Homo sapiens: one gene and its partners. The protein of the gene in region 2 interacts with the protein of the main gene of each other region in a biochemical or structural test. Each region holds a gene or a part of one and is shown on either strand. Other genes may lie near its edges.

What was found. The genes of interacting proteins can lie anywhere in the genome.
Region 1: the proteins of MAST1 (region 2) and ATP2B4 interact in a test that uses a peptide from one of them, tested with the Homo sapiens proteins (one large-scale study listed by IntAct).
Region 3: the proteins of MAST1 (region 2) and SLC22A3 interact in a test that uses a peptide from one of them, tested with the Homo sapiens proteins (one large-scale study listed by IntAct).
Region 4: the proteins of MAST1 (region 2) and PKP4 interact in a test that uses a peptide from one of them, tested with the Homo sapiens proteins (one large-scale study listed by IntAct).

What each region holds. Positions count from the first base shown.
Region 1 is NC_000001.11:203,705,972-203,710,715, reverse strand, and holds part of ATP2B4 (plasma membrane calcium-transporting ATPase 4), read right to left. Parts: intron 3,708-4,744; coding exon 3,493-3,707; intron 2,855-3,492; coding exon 2,612-2,854; intron 1,416-2,611; coding exon 1,174-1,415; intron 1-1,173. UniProt on the Homo sapiens protein: Calcium/calmodulin-regulated and magnesium-dependent enzyme that catalyzes the hydrolysis of ATP coupled with the transport of calcium out of the cell. By regulating sperm cell calcium homeostasis, may play a role in sperm motility.
Region 2 is NC_000019.10:12,862,193-12,866,936, reverse strand, and holds part of MAST1 (microtubule-associated serine/threonine-protein kinase 1), read right to left. Parts: intron 2,129-4,744; coding exon 1,990-2,128; intron 1,892-1,989; coding exon 1,759-1,891; intron 1,622-1,758; coding exon 1,456-1,621; intron 1,221-1,455; coding exon 1,119-1,220; intron 958-1,118; coding exon 835-957; intron 285-834; coding exon 175-284; intron 1-174. UniProt on the Homo sapiens protein: Microtubule-associated protein essential for correct brain development. Appears to link the dystrophin/utrophin network with microtubule filaments via the syntrophins. Phosphorylation of DMD or UTRN may modulate their affinities for associated proteins.
Region 3 is NC_000006.12:160,354,018-160,358,761, reverse strand, and holds part of SLC22A3 (solute carrier family 22 member 3), read right to left. Parts: intron 1-4,744.
Region 4 is NC_000002.12:158,665,592-158,670,335, reverse strand, and holds part of PKP4 (plakophilin-4), read right to left. Parts: intron 4,489-4,744; exon of another isoform or gene 4,255-4,488; intron 3,924-4,254; coding exon 3,773-3,923; coding exon of another isoform or gene 3,759-3,772; exon of another isoform or gene 3,672-3,758; intron 617-3,671; coding exon 421-616; intron 1-420. UniProt on the Homo sapiens protein: Plays a role as a regulator of Rho activity during cytokinesis. May play a role in junctional plaques.

The sequences.
Region 1 (4,744 bases), on a different chromosome or scaffold from region 2:
CAAGGTAGGTGGGCTGTGGATGGAGTTAAGGTCTAGATATATAGAGAGTGGGATTCTCCCATGTCATCTGTTCTTACCCATATGTGAATGCAATGCAAGTCATTTGTGAATCACCTGCTCTTTTGAACTTCTTGAAGGCAGAGAGACTTTTTCAATCCGAGTATTTAGAATAGTGCTCACTGTGTGGTGCTGGTGGTTTGGGGGAGGTTTCCTATACAAGAATGTGCTGATTAAAAGAAGGTGGCTAAAGCCATGTTGGAGCACTGGTTAATTCAGCCCTACTTAGGTATAGTGCCAACTTTTGATGAACTATGGGTAATTTATTAATAGTCACTTTTTTTTTTTTGTAATGGAGTCTCACTCTGTCACCCAGGCTGGAGTGCAGTGGTGCGATCTCAGCTCACTGCAACCTCTGCCTTCTGGGTTCAAGCGATTCTCCTGCCTCAGCCTCCTGAGTAGCTGGGATTACAGGCACGCACCACCATGCCTGGCTAATTTTTGTATTTTTTTTTAGTAGAGACAGGGTTTCACCATGTTGGTCGGGCTGGTTTCGAACTCCTGACCTCGTGTTCTGCCTGCCTCGGCCTCCCAAAGTGCTGGGATTACAGGCGTGAGCCACTGCGCCTGGCCGAATAGTCACTTTTAAAGTTATGTAAATTCCCTGTAATCAGAAATGGGAATGGGAAGGAAAGAGAAGGAAAAGAGAACACAGAACAAACGTTTCTAGTACTTGTTATGTATAAGGCATTTTACATACATTGAATCATTTAGTTACAGTGAGGGGGTAGTACTTTTAGGAGCTGAGTATGGCTATCTCTGTTTTCAGATTAGGAAATGGAAACTTAGGATCGTCCAGGTCTGAATCCTGGCTGTGCCACTATTAGCTGTATCACCTTGAGTGAGATACTTAACTTCCTTATATCTCTGTTTTCTCATCTGTAAAACAGGGATAATCATAGTACCCACCTTACTGAGTTGTGAGGATTAAATACAACAAGCCACCTTAAGCACTTAAAAAACATGCGTGGCCTGAGTAGACGCTTGGATATTAGTTATTATGTCACCACCTGGCTGGAGGGCTCCCTCATTCACATGGGTTCAGTGTGGGGTGTGCACCCATGCCTTCCTGAGGAGAGGATCTTGAAGGGAAGCAGAGTGGTCGGGGGTGCTCACTTGCGCAAGATGATCTCAGAGGCGCCCTTGCTGTACATACGGAAGCCACCGTTGGGATTCCTGATGACGGTGCTCATTGACTTGCGCACTGAGTTAAAGGTGTACACCTTGTAGAGCTTCTCCTCGGGCACTTCATTACGCACAGCCTGATAATCCTGCTTCAGATCTGTGACAAAGCCTAGCAGAGCACACTCGGTCTTGTTGCCCACCTGCCGAGGCAGGCCTCCCTCCTTCTCTGGAGGCTGGGAGAAGAAATATACACAGCACTATTGAGTAAGATGCCTTGACAAGGCAGAGAACTTAGGGAGAAAGAACTCATTTACAAAGCCTTCACATTATATACCTGGAGCTCATAGGGGAAATAACATTTTTTTTTTTCTTTTTTGGAGATGGAGTCTCGCTCTGTTGCCCAGCCTGGAGTGCAGTGGCACGACCTTGGCTCACTGCAACCTCCACCTCCCAGGTTCAAGTGATTCTTCTGCCTCAGCCTCCTGAGTAGCAGGGACTACAGGTACCTGCCACCATGCCTAGCTAATTTTTGTATTTTTAGTAGAGACCGGGTTTCACCATGTTGGCCAGGCTGGTCTTGAACTCCTGACCTCAGGTGATCTGCCCACCTCAACCTCCCAAAATGTTGGGATTACAGGCATGAGCCACAGCACCTGGCATCTTTTTTCTTTTTCTTTTTGACATAGCACCTTGCTCTGTTGCCCAGGCTTGACTGCAGTGGTGTGATCTCAGCTCACTGCAGACTTGACCTCTTAGGCTCAAGTGATCCTCCCACCTCAGCTTCTGGAGTAGCTGGGACTACAGGTGCGCAACCATGCCTGGCTAATTTTGTTTATTTTTGTAGAGATGAGGTCTCACAATATTGCTCAGGCTGGTCTCGAACTCCTGGGCTCAAGCGATCTTACCATTTTGGCTTCCCAAAGTGCTGGGATTACAGAAGTGAGCCACTATGCCTAGCCTGTTGTTTTTCAAGGGTAGGCAGAGAGGGGTCAGTGGTAACCGTGATCCTTGTGCCATCCAGGGCTTAGGGATTTTGTAGTTTGCTCTAGTGGTAGTGCTGGTGTCTCGCCTTGTGTGGGTCTTATTCTAATACACTATGCTTGTTTCTAGAAAGTGAGTAATTTACTTCTGATAAGCCCAATTCTACTTTGGGTTACTTTCTACTTTCCCTCCTTAGAGACATTGCTTTTACATGCTAATTGGGAGGGTATTTCCTGGCCATAGATTCTTACAGGCCCTTACCTCCAACCCTCCATTGACTCCCAGGGATTTTTCTGTAGTCTCACCCAAACATGTTCACTCCAGCGTGAGAAATGGGATGTGGGATGGCAATTTAGGCAGTGTAAACAATAAGGGGGTTCATTTCAGAGAAAATGGATGTTCCCTTCCAACCACCCACTCTAAGTGTCTACGCAAAGGAAATGCTTACCAGAATCTTGGAGGTATAAGCACTGTTGATAGAAATGCCATTGACAATGAGGTCCAGGACTTTGGGCAGGAAGACATCAGGGCTTGGGATTTGACGGTAATGGATGCCCCCAATATAAGCTTGTACCACAGTCATGCGGTTCATGGTCAACGTGCCTGTCTTATCAGAGCAGATGGCGGTGGCGTTGCCCATGGTCTCACAAGCATCCAAGTGCCGTACTAGGTTATTGTCTTTCATCATTTTCTACAAAGGAGAAGAGAAAAGACTTGAGAGGGGGACTAACTGGACTCTCCTAAATCTAGGTCAAAGGCCATTTCCTAGCCAACATCTCTCCACATTTCATCTTCCAGTCCCACACAAAAATCCAAGATACTGACTGGGTGCAGTGATTCATGCCTGTAATTTCAGTACTTCGGGAGGCTGAGACGGGCAGATCACCTGAGGTCAGAAGTTCAAGACCAGCCTGGCCAACATGGTGAAACCCTGTCTCTGTAAAAGATACAAAAAGTAACTGGGCATGGTGGTGCACACCTGTAATCCCAGCTACTTGGGAGGCTGAGGCACGAGAATCACTTGAACCCGGGAGGCGGAGGTTGCATCATTGCATTCCAGCCTGGGTGACAGAATGAGACTCTGTCTTAAAAAAAAAAAAAAATCCAAGATACCATTTTTGTCATTCTCTTAAGATTCTGCTGGGTCATTTCAACATTGATGCATCTGACAGAGATGGTCCTTCCATAATACCAGGGACTTCTGCTCTTGTGAGGCACCAGCCAAAGTTTATAGATGATAGAATGGCTTATCTTTTCACTAAAGGTTACATGGTACCCTTCTCTCCCATCTCTATCCTAAAGGAAGAGATAGGATTGTTCTAGTCTCACCTTCACAGAGTAGGCCAGTGAGATGGTGACAGCCAGAGGCAGCCCCTCTGGCACAGCCACCACCAGTACAGTGATGCCGATGATGAAGAACTTGACAAAGTACTGGATGTAGATGGGAGTACACTCAGGGAGCCATGGTCTGCGATTTATCACAAAGTTGTCAATCACAAAGTATAGAATCAGGATGAAAACCGTGAGAGCAGACATGAGCAGACCTGTCCAGAGAAACAAGTCATATGAACCCAGGCTGGAGGGCAGTCCTAGGGCCCTAGCCAGAGATAGATTGGCATCAGTTGTAGCCTTTGTTGCCAATTATTAAAACCACCATCGCCAGGAAGACTTACTAAAATCCCCCCCATTCTCTGTTGCTTGTACATTATAGCATAGGGAACAGACAGTGGTTTCGTATTTCAAAGACACAGGTTCTATTCTCAGCACTGCACTAACTTGACTTGTGGCTTTGGACAAGTCATTGACCCTCTCTGGGCCTGTTTCCTAGATCAAATTCCTCATTCATAAATCAGGGGGTTGATCTGTTTCCTGAAACAGCTTTCTATGATCCTATTCCACGCCCACCCTCTCCCTGCGATTCATAATGTCATGACTGTACTTGTCCATTTCATAGTAGTTTATCAATTTTGACTTCTCCTCTACTAACCTCTGAATGTTGGACAATTCACACCTTGTTTACAACAATGCCTCTATGGTGCTAGTGTATCACCTGCATGACTAACTCTTAGAACAGTGCTTCCCAAGATTTCTCTTGTCACGGCACACATAGAAGATGCCAATAATAGTAAATACTTATGTGGGCACCTGCTGTGGGCCAGGCAAGCACTTCACAACCCTGTGAAATAGGTCATTATTATTACCGCCTTTTTAAAGATGAGGAAATGAAAGTACTGGGAAGTCTTTGGTATGGCCCATTGGTAGAGTAACCAAACCATCCTGAGACTACTGAACAGTTTCCAGGGATGTGGGGCTTTGCTAAAATTGAGAAAATCCCAAGCAAACTGGGATGGTTGGTTACCCTACACATTACAGTACGTGAAAGAATCTGCTCAAGGTCAAAACCGACTGGCTTAGGGGTTCTGATTGCCATGGGTGCTGCCTGGATGCTTTGAGGGCTGATGGAATCAATATCTGGGGACAACTGTCCCTAACTGTGGCACAATATTTGGGAAAAGCTCTGCTTTAAATCATTATCTGGTTTTGGTTTTTGCTTTTCCCAAGGGCCTGATGATTCGGGGGC
Region 2 (4,744 bases):
CCCATAGACTCCCGAACCTGCCTCTTGCGTGGCCTTACCACCTTCCAGACTCCCGCCCCATCAATAACTTCCCGCTCCTGAGACCTTGGGCACCAGGGAACCTGTTTCTCACTGTCTCTCCAAGCCCCATCCCTCCTGGGGTCTCGCCCTGTCCCACACCCAGACTTGGCCCACCTTGCTGAAGCGCGGAGAGCAGGAAGAGAACTGGCGGATTTCCACGGGCTCCTCCTCCGTCGTGTCATCCTCGTCATAGGAGTTCACGTGGTGATACCTGTCTGAGCGGGCTGGGGAGCGGGTATGGGCTGTGACTGAGGGTACGGGGTTCCTCCTCATATCACATCCCCACAGGAGCCCAGTCCTGGTTCAAGACGGGTTTACAAGTCTTCAGGTCAGGCCACGCCCCTGCCTCATTAGTGTATTTAATTTAGGCTCCGCTCCCAGGCAAGGTCCTTGCCCCATTCTCAGTGGCACCGTCTAGCCCCGCCTCCAAAGAGGCCACGCTCCACCTACAGTGCTCTGCACCCTGGCATCACCCCAGGCCATTCTGAGCGCTAGTACCTCTCTCTAGTTCAGTTCCAGGCCCACACTCACAACTCACCCAGGCCAGGCCCCACACCTAGCCCAATCTCAGGTTCTTACCTACATTTCAGCCTGAGCCCCGCCTGTATGTCAGCCCCGCCCCACTTGGCCCCGCCCCCACCAAAATACCACCTTCGCACCTAGGCATCACATCTTGGTACTTAGCCAGGCCCTATCCCAGGCTTTACTTACCCCAGGGTCCCTCTTCCCGGATCCCACCCCTCGACCCAGGTCGTGCCTGGTGTCCCAGCTCACTGTCAAAGTAGCTAGTGTCATCTTCCGACTCTAGGTGGGGGATGAACTCGGCCTTCTGCCTCAGCAGCCCTGTCCAGTCCAGGTCTCGAAAGAAACTGTGCTGCTTCACCTCAAAAGCGCCGCCTGGGACGGAAGGGATTCCAGCCACAGCTGATGGCCAACCCAGCAGCCCAGCCCCGCCCCCCATGTCTTCCGCCCCGGGGCCACAGCACAGGCTGGGCCTGGGGTTTTGGAGGCCTGCTCTCTATCAGTGGGCCCTCAGCTCCTCTGCATGGCGGACTTACCTGCCCCAAGCCTGACCAGAGGGTTGGTCTGCAGGAGGCTGGATATGAGGAGTTGGGCCTCCGTAGGTAGGGCCTCATCCCCCTCGGGCCACAGGATGTCATCTGCAAAACAAAACGGAACTTAGGGGCGGTTTTTGTTGTTGTTGTTGTTTGGACACAGGATCTCACTGTGTCACCCAGCTGGAGTGCAGTGGCACGATCATGGCTCACTGCAGCCTTGACCTCCTGAGTGCAAGCGATCCTCTGGGGGGTCGCTTTTGAAATCCCTGGAACCCTGAGCCTGTCCATCTCTCCGTGCACACCACACTCTGCCCCTGTACACTGCCAAGCCACGTACCACTGATGACCTGTCCAAATAGCTCCTCTGGTGTGTCTCCGAAGAAGGGCACACAGCCCACCAGGAACTCGTAGAGGATGATCCCCATAGCCCACCAGTCCACTGGCTTGCCGTAGCCTTGACGCAGGATGACCTCGGGCGCGATGTACTCTGGGGTCCCACACACCTGGGGGCAGGCTGTCAGCCCACGCCCCAGCCAGAGGAGGGCCCTCAAGGGAGAGCTGTGCCCCCCACCAGGCCCTGGGTTCCCGAGGTCCTGCAGGGTCACTCCACCCTCAGCGACCCCCATGCCCGCACACACACCTGTTTGTCCAGGAACTCTCGGGCGTCCTTCTCGATGTGGCCTTCATATAAGTTGGTGGTGAGGCTCATGAGCCCCATCTTGGAGAGGCCGAAATCTGTGAGCTTGATGTGACCCATGGAGGTGATAAGGAGGCTGTAGGCACAGGTGGGGATCTCAGGGATGAGGCCCGTCCATTCTGCCTCCTGGCCTCCCGAGGGACAGAGGGAGTGATGGGAAAGATCAAAGCTCACTTGTCAGGCTTGAGGTCGCGGTGCACGATGCCATAGTTGTGCAAATACTCCAGGGCTAGCACCGTCTCAGCAAAGTACATGCGGGCCATCTCTACGGGCAGCGCTCCAATATTCTTCAGCAGGGTGGCACAGTCGCCGCCTGCAGGCCAGGAAATGGGCCCGCATAAAAAGGGAGGCATTCCTCTCTCTGGACATGCACCATAGCACCAACTTCTCATGTTATGTTGTACCCGTTTTATAGATAAGGGAAACTGAGGCTCTGAGAGGGGCCTCCCTCCCTCCAGGTCCTCTACTGGGTTCTTCTTGTCCTCTTAGCCATCCTCCAAAGTTGGTGTCATCAGCTCATCTTATACACAAAGGGATGGAGACTCAAAGAAAGGATGGGTCATGCAGGCAGTTGTTGGTAGAGGTGAGGTTTAGTTGGGGAACAAAGGCTACCCACTTATCAACTGCATCTGGAAGCACAGCCCTCTATCTCCTGGTGTCTGAACCTTGGAGCTGGAAGCCTTAGATGCAGATTCTTGGTCTTCACTAGATTTTTTTTTTTTTTTTTTGAGACAGGGTCTTACTCCATTGCCCAGTCTAGAGTGCGGTGGCAAGATCACAGCTCACTGCATCCTCAACCTCCCAGCTCAAGCAATCCTCCTGCTTCAGCCTCCTGAGTAGCTGGGACTACAGATGTGAGCCACCATGCCCAGCTGATTTTTAAAAAATTGTTCAAGGCTGGGCATGGTAGCTCACGCCTGAAATCCCAGCACTTTGGGAAGCCAAGGCGGGTGGATCACTTGAGGTCAGGAGTTCGAGACCAGCCTGGTCAACATGGTGAAACCCCATCTCTGAAAAAAGAATACTAAAGTTAGCCTGGCTTGTTGGCAGACGGCTGTAATCCCAGCTACTCGGGAGGCTAAGGCAGAAGAATGGCTTGAACCTGGGAGGCAGAGGTTGCAGAGATCCAAGATCGCACCACTGCAGTCCAGCCTGGGTGACAGAGCAAGACTCCGTCTCAAAAAAAAAAAAAAAAAAGTTTTTTGTAGAAACGAGTTTCATTGTGTTGCCCAAGCTGGTCTCCAACTCTTGGGTTCAAAGGATCCTCCTGCCTCAGCTTCCCAAAGTGTTGGCCACTGCCTCTGCCCCTCTGCCAGATTTACTGTAATTGGCATTGGTATTTCAGTTTCTCAATATCTATTTCCTTTTTATCCTACAAAGGCTAGATTTCCTTCCATGTGCAGCAACCGGGGCAGTATGTAACCCAAGTTGCTCCAGTGAGTTAGCCCTTGGAATTTTCACTCTTTTCCTGTAAGAATTGCTAAGCTCATAGAATGTAAGCTGAGATCTGCTAGATGGCAACCTTGCTACATGAGGGCTTGTCTAGAAGGAAGCCCACATGTGGGAGTACAGAGCCAAGAGATGGAGAGTTTCCTGATGGAATGGTTTGAGCACCTACATCCAGCCATTCCTGAAGGTAATATTGGTTTTTCAATCACCAATGACCAAGAAAGCTAATGATTTCTTTCTTTTTTCTGTTCTCTTTTCTGCGAGATTTTGCTGGTTTCAGAAACTCTCTGAGGGTGGGGCCCAGGAATCTGCATTTGAGCACATCTATTGTGCACACAGACCCACCATAGAGATACTGATTTGGCCCCCTTCTCTCCTCCTCCTCTGCAATGAACCTGGACTAGAGCAGTCATCTACCTCCTAGTCTCCTGATTCTGCTCTCTCCACAAGAGCCAAATGGATTATCTTTTCTTAATTTTTTTCTTTTTCTCTTTTTTTTTTTTTTTTTTTTTTTGAGTCAGAGTCTGGCTCTGTCACCCAGGCTAGAGTGCAGTGGCTCCATCTCGGCTCACTGCAACCTCTGCCCACTCACCGCCCCCGGGTTCAAGAGATTCTTGTTCCTCAGCCTCCCGAGTAGCTGGGATGATAGGCGTGCACCGCCACTCCTGGCTAATTTTTGTAATTTTAGTAGAAACAGGGTTTCATTGGCCGGGCACAGTGGCTCACGCCTGTAATCCCAACACTTTGGGAAGCCGAGGCAGGCACATCACCTGAGGTTGGGAGTTCGAGACCAGCCTGGCTGACATGGAGAAACCCCATCTCTACTAAAAATACAAAAATAGCCAGGTGTGGTGGTGCATACCTATAATTCCAGCTACTCAAGAAGCTGAGGCAGGAGAATCGCTTGAACCCGGGAGGAGGAGGTTGCGGTGAGCCAAGATCACGTCATTGCACTCTAGCCTGGGCAACGAGTTTAGCCAGAGCGAAACTCTGTCTCAAAAAAAAAAAAAAAAAGGAAAAGAAAAAAACAACAACAACAGGGTTTCACCATGCTGGGTAGGTTGATCTTGGACTCTTGACCACAAGTGTTCTGCCTGCCTTGGTCTCCCACTGTAAGTGCTGGGATTACAGTCGTAAGCTACTATAATGGGCCTCCAAATGGATTTTCTTAAAACATAAATCTGATCATATCAAATCTTCTTAAAACCCTCCATTAGCTGGACATGGTGGTGCCTGCCTGTAGTTTCAGCTACTTTTGGAGGCTGAGGTGGGAGGATTGCTTGAGCCCAGGAGTTCAAGGCTGCAGTAAGCTGTGATCACACCACTGCACTCCAGCCTGGACAATGCACTAAAAATAAAACAAAACAAGGCTGGGCGCAGTGATTCACGCCTGTAATCCCCATACTTCGGGAGGCCGAGACTGATGGATCATTTAAGGCTAGGAATTCGAGACCAGCCTGGCCAACATGGTGAAAATCCG
Region 3 (4,744 bases), on a different chromosome or scaffold from region 2:
CTTGGGCACCACAGTTAGTGACAAAGAGCAAGAAGGAGGGAACTGGCATGTGCCCAGGACCTTCCACATGCTCAGCGGTTCCTGCATGTTTCTCATTTGTCCCCAGAGCCACCCGGATGGGGGGATTGTTCACTCTATATCACAACTGAATCCACGGGGGCTTGAGAAATCTTGCCAAATCTGGTAGCTCCGACCTCTACCCTGGGCCTTTCCCTAGTTTTCATTACTAAGCTCCAGTTTATACCAGCTCCAGAGAGTGGACCCTGGCCACGTCCTTAGTATTGGAATCTTGGTGCCCTGCCTAAAGCACGCTTCCCTCAGCCCTAGGGGCTTGCCATTTGCCTGAATTTCCAGGCCCAAGCTGCCTCTCTGAGTCAACTTTCTCAGTATCTGTTGTCAGCATCTATGATCATCACCAGCTACTTACATATCTCAGACAACAGGACAAGCACTTTGAATGCCTTATTTACCTAAGTCTCCCCACTAAAACCAGGAAATCTCAGGACTGGGCTAGTCCAGAGCTCAAAAACCCTCAAATTCAGCCATTTGCTTGCATCCACAAAACTAGGAAGTCTACGTTCTTAGCCACCTATTTGCCTTAGCAATACACTACACTAAACCAGTTTGGATCTAAAATTTGATAATTTTTTCACAAAACTCTGCAACAATAAATTGTTATTATCTAATGATCTCTGGAGTTGATAAATAGACAATTTTATTTGGTTTTATAATGTATTCAACTTGGTTGGAATTAAAATAAAAATCATTATGTATGCTCTATTAGATACAGACTGGATAGGGAATTGTAGCAATCTTACAAGGATGCTAGGAGCTGACAAGAGATGTGATAAATTTGTCACATAATTTCCCACTAACTGCCACACAGGAAGATCAAGAACCTCTGTGGAAAAGGTTCCTGGAACACTTTCTTACACTCTAATAACTTGGACATTTATTTATTTGATTTCTTTAAAGTTGATGCCAAATTAATCTGAATTAGTTTCAATCTAATTTTCTCCTCTACCCTGGGTAGTTAATGTTTTTAACTATCCAGGTGACTTCTCTATGGGTATTTTCTTTAAGATACTCATTTGTGAACAATTAAAGGGCATTCATTTCTCAACAGATATTTGCAGTGCATTGCTTTTTAAAACGTCATCAATATTAAACGTGCAGGCTGTTTTCACCACAACCACTTAATCCCCATAAATGTGCTACAAACAGTTTTTAGTATAGGAGCTCCTGGCACCTTGTCCCTTCGGTTTCTGTCTCAGAAGCATCAGCTTACGGCGTCCCTCCCCACTAGCCTGGAAGCACACATGTTGTCTTTCATTTTGTGCTGTCGATTGCCCAAAGCTTCCCGTTGGCAGAAGTGTCATGAAATCAGAGCCATCCTGTGTGTATGCTAGGTGGACGCAGCAACTGGGAAAGGCTTCTGGGACGCTTTTCCATGTTGGGACCAGTGGTCTCTGTTAATGGAAAGCCAAAGACTTGCTTATCACTTGGTTATCTCCACTGCTGGTGCCCTATAGCAGTCCTATGACAGAGGTCACCTGCTCTCCCAGGACTGAATTTGAAAGCAGAATAGGTGCCTTTGTTTCTCAGGTCCAGGCTTGTGCCTACCCTTCCTCCATCCAGTGGTTTCCACTATGCTCACAGTCAAGGACAGCTCCCCTCCTTGGACTCTACAGGGCACTAGAATCTAGAGCAGATGTTAAGGAAGGTGGGATGGATGCCTGCCCCAGAATTGTTTAAATTACATTTATTTATTCACCTTCTTCTAAGCCCCTAAACTTCACCCCTCACTAATTTTCTCTATTATCACACAAGTACCAGCCACAGAGTTATTTTGCTTTATTACCAACACGAAGAGAAATAACAGCATGGTAACCCTTAAAAAGCTGTTACTGATCTCACCCAGATAAAACAGTATTAGCCATGATTTGACAAGCTCAACAGTCATTTATCATTTTAAAAAGCCACACCAAAGACCATTAAAACTTTGCTTTTTCCTCACAGAATATAAATACATGTCCTTTCTTGGTTATGATTTAAGAGGGGGTGGGGAAAAAACCGAGGCAGAATGTTGGAAAGGTTTTAGTTTGTTTTGGAAGGTAGGTGGTGTTTGCTCCCCACTCCATAGCCATGAAGGGGACAGCGCTGCACCCTGGGAGCTGCTCAGCCCAGGCCCTTCAGTGCTCCTCCCTGCACCGGGCCTTGCACCTGTGCCCAGCTGCCCTGGAGCAGGCTCGATTGATGACACAGACTACTGTGTGGTGCCAGGACAGCTGGGAAAAGTCTCTTCTGCACAATGGACGTCAGCACATTAAAATTATGGCCCCAAAGAGCCAGCAGTTCTATTCCTTCCTGTCCCTTTCATGTTCCAGGTCACACCCCCTACATTAGGATTCTGCGGACACAGACCCCATGAGCAGATAGGAGTCAAGTAAAGTGGAGGCCTGTTTTCCTCCTGCTCCAGAGGTCTGCGGGCGGCCATGGCCGCCGATGATTGTTCACCCTGTGACTGATCACACCTCATGGATGCAAGGCAGAAGATGATGAAGGCGGAGGATGAGGCAAGGAATCGGCGTTAGGAGTCAACAGGAAGCAACACCATCGGTAGAGGGCCTGGGTTAATCTCTGAAAGCCAATTCCAGGGTTGGCCTAGCCATGGTCATAAAAAGCATTACACGTGCCAAGGAATCCCTTTCTCTTTCATTCATTAATTTAATCACAAATATTTGCCAAACACTGCGTTAGGCTAGGAGGGCAGAGCGCCGGCCCTCCAGCACCTCAGAGTCTGATGAGGCAGTGAGCACAAGATGAGTAGAGGGAAGGCAGCTAGACAGATAAAGGAAGCCAAGCCCAGCCCTGGGTAGAGGCAGCAGTGGGGAAGGTGTGTCTGGAATTGGTGTGTGTAAAGGTACAAAACGGAACAGCCTCATGAGAAAAGACAAGTTTTTTGTTGTTGTTGTTGTTGTTGTTGTTTTGAGACAGAGTCTCTAACTGTCGCCCAGGCTGGAGTGCAGTGGTGCGATCTCAGCTTACTGCAAGCTCCGCCTCCCGGGTTCACGCCATTCTCCTGCCTCAACCTCCCCGGTAGCTGGGACTACAGGCAGCCGCCACCATGCCTGGCTAATCGTTTTTGTATTTTTTTTTTTTTTAGTAGAGACGGGGTTTCACCGTGTTAGCCAGGATGGTCTCGATCTCCTGACCTCGTGATCTGCCCACCTTGGCCTCCCAAAGTGCTGGGATTACAGGTGTGAGCCACCGTGCCCGGCCGAGGAAAGACAGGTATTTTGAGGAAAGGAAAGGAAACAGCGCACACAAGAGCCCAAGGGGAGGACAGCTGTGGCACATGTCCCAGGGTGACTGCCTGGAGAGTGGGAGCCCCGGGGGCTAAGAGAGGGAAAAGCCTCTATAGGCGGAGACATGGGGTGGAGGCACAGAGACCTTGTGTACCAGACCTAGGGGAGGATGCTCTTAGAGGCACCAGCCTCCATACCATTTTGTCAGGTGCCCACAGCCTCGTGACCTGTGCCCTGCCAGGAAGCACACTAAGATGCTGTATGAGTCAGAGCAGCCTAACAGGAAGAGCTGCAACAAGCAGTCTCCCAAGCCTCAGTTGTGTAACACAATAAAGCTTATTTCTTATTCGCAATCCCATATTCCTGTGCAGATGAATTGGTGTGGAGGGGAGCTGTGGGGCTCCTGCCTGCCTCGCATGCCTCCAGGAACGCATATCCTTCCGTGTAAGAGTTCCACCATCCTCCGGGGACTGCAGGAGGAAGGTTGCTCCGGCTCCAGGCTTAGCAGTTCCACATTCACTTCCCCAACATCACTGACCAGGACTCAGACACGTGGCCTCTCTAGCTTCAAGGGAAGCTGGGAAATATGACCTACCTGTGGGGTCCAGTGGGAAAGTATCGGTATTCTCAGCCTTTAGAGCAAATTAGTGTCCGAGATATTTTATTTTATTTTTTAGAGACAGGGTCTTCCTCTGTCACCCAGGCTGGAATACAGCAGCACAGTTCGACCTCCTGGGTTCAACCTTCTGAGTAGATAGGACTACAGGCATGCATCACCACACTCGGCCAATTTTTTAAAAATTTTAAAATATTTTTGTATAGTTGGAGTCTCAAAATGCTGCCTAGGCTGGCCTCAGACTCCTGGGATTACAGGCATGAACCACCACAACTGGCCAAGGCTTTGACTCTTTATATTTAAGGCAAATTTATCAGTGATTTATTATGCTAGACCAGGGATCAGCAAACTTACAGCTCCAGGGTCAAATCTGGCCCATAGCCTGTTCCTTCCCTCCCTCCTGACTCCCACCTGGCTTAAGGGTCTTTATGTGTTCACAGGAACCAACTGTTCTGAGCACCACCTATGACCAGGCACTTTGCAAGCATATGTCAAGCCAATTGCTAAGGCAGGCATTCTTGTACCCATTCTAGTGCTGAGGAAACTGAGGCTCAGGCAGATGCTCAGTTGACTTGCCCTTCAAGTTAATAGAGGAGCTGGGATTTAGGACAAGATTTATCTGACACCAAAGGACATGTGTATTCTTTCCACTCTACTAAGATGTCAATGCCAAAAATAACCCGTGGGTCCAAAAGTACAGATGTCTCTGCAACATCTGTTGGAGTCCCCTACCTTTGCCCAAAGCTCCTTTCTAAGGTTTACCAAGACTCCCAGAAAGTGTGGTTCAGCTGTGGGCTTCCCCCGCTCCCCAGTTAATTCC
Region 4 (4,744 bases), on a different chromosome or scaffold from region 2:
ACAGCTGAAAGGCACCATCTATGAACCAGAATCGGGGCCCTCACCAGACACCAAATCTGTTGGTGCCCTGATCTTGGATTTCCCGGCCTCTAGAACTGTGAGAAATAAATTTCTGTTGTTTATAAGCCACCCAGTTCACAACATTTTGTTACAGCAGAACAAACAGACTAAGACAGAGACAAATACCAATGTAGGAGTGAGGGTGTTACAATAAAGTGAAAACCAAAAATAGGCCCCATAACAGAAAACACTTCTCCCAGCATAGCAGGTTGTAAGTGCTGGAGACTGCTTAGCTTATCGGCATGTAAGAAATGCAAAAATAAATCCTTTCCAATAGGAAAGGTATCCTCAACAAAGGCCTCATCACAGGACAATCTCAGGAATAAGAGCACTGCTTGCACCTCCTTGCCGCAGACTTGCCTGTCGCCCCTGCCTTTGGTTATGTTCACCAGCTTCTCTATGCCTCCTGAGTCGGCCAGGGCTTTTGCGTTCTCCATGTTTTTGCTGGTGACCTCGTGCAGAGCACAGCAGATGGCTGCCATGGTCTCATCAGACAAGACACTGGGGCCATTGCCGCCGGGGAGCCGGTTGACCAGGTCTCGCATGGCGTATTTGCCTGCCAACGGCAAAAGAGTAAATTCTACTTCCAGAAGGTACTAGGTTTTTGTTATTGTTGTTCAGATTCTGGTGGCATGCAATCTCTTAAAAATAAAACCCCCAAAGAGACAATAATAGGGGAAAAAATCAAAACCCATGGCAAAGAAGAAAAGGACAAATGTCATTATAAGGGGAAAGCTAACATTTATTGCAACGTCACTTGCAGAAATGATTCATTTATAAAACATTACTGTCAATTGCTGAAAGCAAATGTAAATCAATGCGTAAAATTGGGTAGACAAATCAAGTTACTTTCGTTCGAGTATTTTCAGTAACATTGAGTAATGAAGGAATTATAATAGTAAATTTTATTCTCAATGGAATTCCTATGCATCACAAATACCTCAATTTCCTCTTAGAGCTTTTTAAAACTTACCTTTGAATCTGGACCAAGTCAGGCTGCCAAACAATACTTTTCGTTAGATCTTTCTGGATCTTAATGTATGAACTGGGTACAGTTACACATTTTTGTGTATAGAGCTGAGGTGTACAGCAACTCATCTGACAACGGTGGCAACATGTTAGTTTCTTTAAAAGATGACACAAGTAAAAGTTCTGGTATTAAAATTATAGGTATGTTATCTCCCAGGAATAATGCAATAATAATGAAATTCTTGCTAAGACAAGGCAAGGGGAGTTTCACAGTTATTGAGGTATTTCTTTATAGATACTGAATTTTTCTTATTCCTCTCCAAAAAGAGATTACCTCTAGCTTTTTCAACTTCGATTACCAACTGACAAACTGTAAGTGCACTACAAACAAAAGAAATGAACTAAAGTGCAAGTAAACATCTTCTTAGTTCTCCCCTATGCTAATAATTGAGTGGATGTGCAATCGCTTTTTATAAAGGCCTGTTTATTTACAGTGGTAAGCAGAAGAAGACAGGTCTCAGCTACATGCTGTGTGATGTACAGCACGTCAGAGGGAAGGCTCTGGCTTGCTCACGACAAACACTGCTATGAAGAGTGGAAAAACAGTGCTGACACTGTAAGGCCACAAGATAAATGTGGTTTTCAGAGCAGATGATAAGTTAGCTCTGGTGATTTTGAATACTCATGAATGACCAAAAGGCCCATGACATGTAATTTGTCATTTTGCTAAGGCATAACTTTAAATTGCACTCCTGGGGGTTAGGCCGAGGCAGCTCACTCTGCCTATGAATGAGTGAGCCTGGCGGTCCCCTCAGAACTTGCAGCTCCAGACAGCAGGGTGGGTCCCACTCAGTTGAGTATGTAGTAACTTTTATGAAGTGATAAAACTTTGCTTCTTTGTGAAAAATGGCTCTGAAAAGAAAGTCCTTTGCTAGTGCTGATGATGAATGTGAAAAAAGAGGGAAGAGGTCAGAGAAGGGGAAGGTTCCTAGGAACTGAAGTACTGGGTAAATTAGAGCCAAATACTGAATCCAAGAGTGAGGCAGATCTCACAGGAAGACGGGAATAGGGAAACAAAAAAACAGACTGATGGAACAGTTCAAGAGTGCTCCAGCCAGGTTAAAAAAAAAAAAAAAAAGCTCATCACTGGAGAGGCAGAAGGCCAGTGGAAGTTAAAAAGGGTTATTCACAGAAAACACAGAAATGCACTGAGAGGAAGCCAAGACTTGGAACACACATTCCTCTTGCCAAAGGTCTTAGCACTTCACAGTACCAGCTCAAGGACTCCTGTCTACCTGTGTCTTTGCGTTGTGAAATATGACAGGCCACAGGATATACGTGTCAACCATTTATTTTTTAGCATTAAAAATGCCCAAATTATACATGCTTCTTATAAGAAATCCAAACAATACAGACGTAAGAAAAATAACTTTAAAGAATATCTCTCTTTAGGGACCTGAAGGATTTCTGTAAAGGAAGTGTGGGAACTGAGAGATATGGCACATCTACAAGAATCAGGCATGAGCTGGACCATGAACAGGGTGAGGAGGAACTTCCTTTCCTCTCCGTAGGGGGATGATTTGGCTTAAAGGAATGGTGTGTTAAGAGCAGGTTAATCTGGGCAACAATTCAAAATAGCAATTCTGTCAGGCACTGTGTGAAGGGCTTCCATTGTAAGTCATCACGTTTAATCCTTACAGCAATTCTTTATGGTAAACATCATCGCCCTTGTTTCTCTCTCCTTCTCTCATGGCAGGTGTATTTTAAGTTTACTATAGATTCACATGAATCCACATAAGATCTTGTCCCATTTCCCCTCCTTCTCCCCTGACCTGTCACCAGCTGTGGGACTTGGCATGGAGCTCTCTCATTTCCTCTTTACAGCAAACCCAGTTAGGACAGCAGGCATCAACAGCTCCCCTTCAGAGATGAGGAGTTGCCTTTCATTTCCAATCTAGATAGAATTACGGAGCCTGAACGGGGTTATATAGGATACCCCAGGTTGCATGGCCAGTGAGCAGCACATCCTGGGAACGAAGCTCAGGTTTATGGGGGTCCCTGATGTCTTCTTTAGCCCGCATCCTGCCTAGGATGTGGCAATGCCGCAGAGGCAAGCAAGCTGCCTGGGGTGCGGAGCGTACAGAGGTCCTCACTGTTTGGTTTGTGCATGTGCCAACCCTACCTTGTACAAACCTGAGAGTAAAGGCCTCCTAAAATGTTGTGCCTTTGGCGCCTTGCTTAGCTCACCCTAGTCCTGCCCCTGCCCAGGGTGGAAATGATGTTGGGACAGTGGTTCTTCTCTGGGATAAAGATTTATACCAATGTGAGAGGGGAAAGCTACAAAACATTCATGTGATTTTTTATTTAGAGTATGGTAGTGTTGGTGAATTAGCAGGTAGCAGTCCAAAAATTGGAAAGGGAGATTAAGATTTTTTGTTGCTCAGGATATAGAGAACTCTCTTAGAAATGAGAGACATTAACCCTACTAGTGTTGTAAGGTACAACTAAAATTGCTGGCCTTTCTGAAAATTTACCTTCCCTAATCAATGACTAATTAATGAGCTTGCCTCCTGCTGAAAAAGAATGGTCACAAAACAGGAGTACTCAAATATGCCAAGAAACTGGAGACTAGGGCTCAGCTGTTAATGATTTTACAAGCCATATATTTATTAATCAAAAGAAGAGTTTCATGAATTTTGTAGCTGCTCTCACATTTACAGCTCATCTTGTCACCAGAACATACCTATGAGCTCCTTGTTGCGAACATCTAGTGCCATATTCCTCAAGGCTGTTGCCACGGAAGAAACAACTCTATCGTTATCCATTCTCAGAAGCTCCACAAGGATGGGGAGCCCCTTTTCTTTTCGGACGGCCGCCCGGATATATGCTGCAAACTAGTGAGAAAAATAAGGCAGGAAGTAACATAAAACAGAGTTCCAGTCTCATATGTTACTGTCACCTAAAAAAGATGTTTCCAAAAGATGAACTAATAGATTAAATGGTTTCTTTCCAATTGAAGATCAAATCTGTGGTGTCAGTGAAGAGAAAACCAAAGTTGGGGAGAAAGATAGGCTGGAATGACTGATTTAAAAAGAAATCCCAAAGCCTGAAAATCTCAAACCACCATCTGCCAGATATTTTTGTGCAGAAAAGAGAAGGCAGTGATTACTTTCTATCTCAGATACATAAACATGATTAAGGAAGGATCGTGTGTTTTCTTTGCAGTTGGTCCCCTGCCAAACCCAGAGGCTATAAATAGGATGGCAGAGACAGTAACCCATCAGCACACATGAAAGGAGAACCTGTCTCCATCAAGTCATTTTTTTTCTATATTCCCTGCAACAATATTTCGAGTTCAGAAACCTGTCAAAGAGATTAGTTGGAAAAATCCCTTGCCTCAGAAGAAAGGGAAATCTCCAGAAACATCCAGCATCATAATTCATACAGCCTGGTGAAAAAGTAAGTATATTTGTGTGCAAAATGCATTCTCACTCAAGATTAGTTAGCTGCTGATGCTGTTTTTTAAAAATCCATAGTCAAGAAATTTTTCTGTGACTATGAAGCAACTCTGTACTGTGAGTCAGTTTGTATATCTTATAAAATGGAAATGAGCGCTAAGTCATCAGTGAAACAACCAAAAAGAGTAACGTTAGAAAACGGTTCTTTAATCTTGTTTCCAGCTTTGAGCTTTAATTGACTTTTTCAACCAATGCAA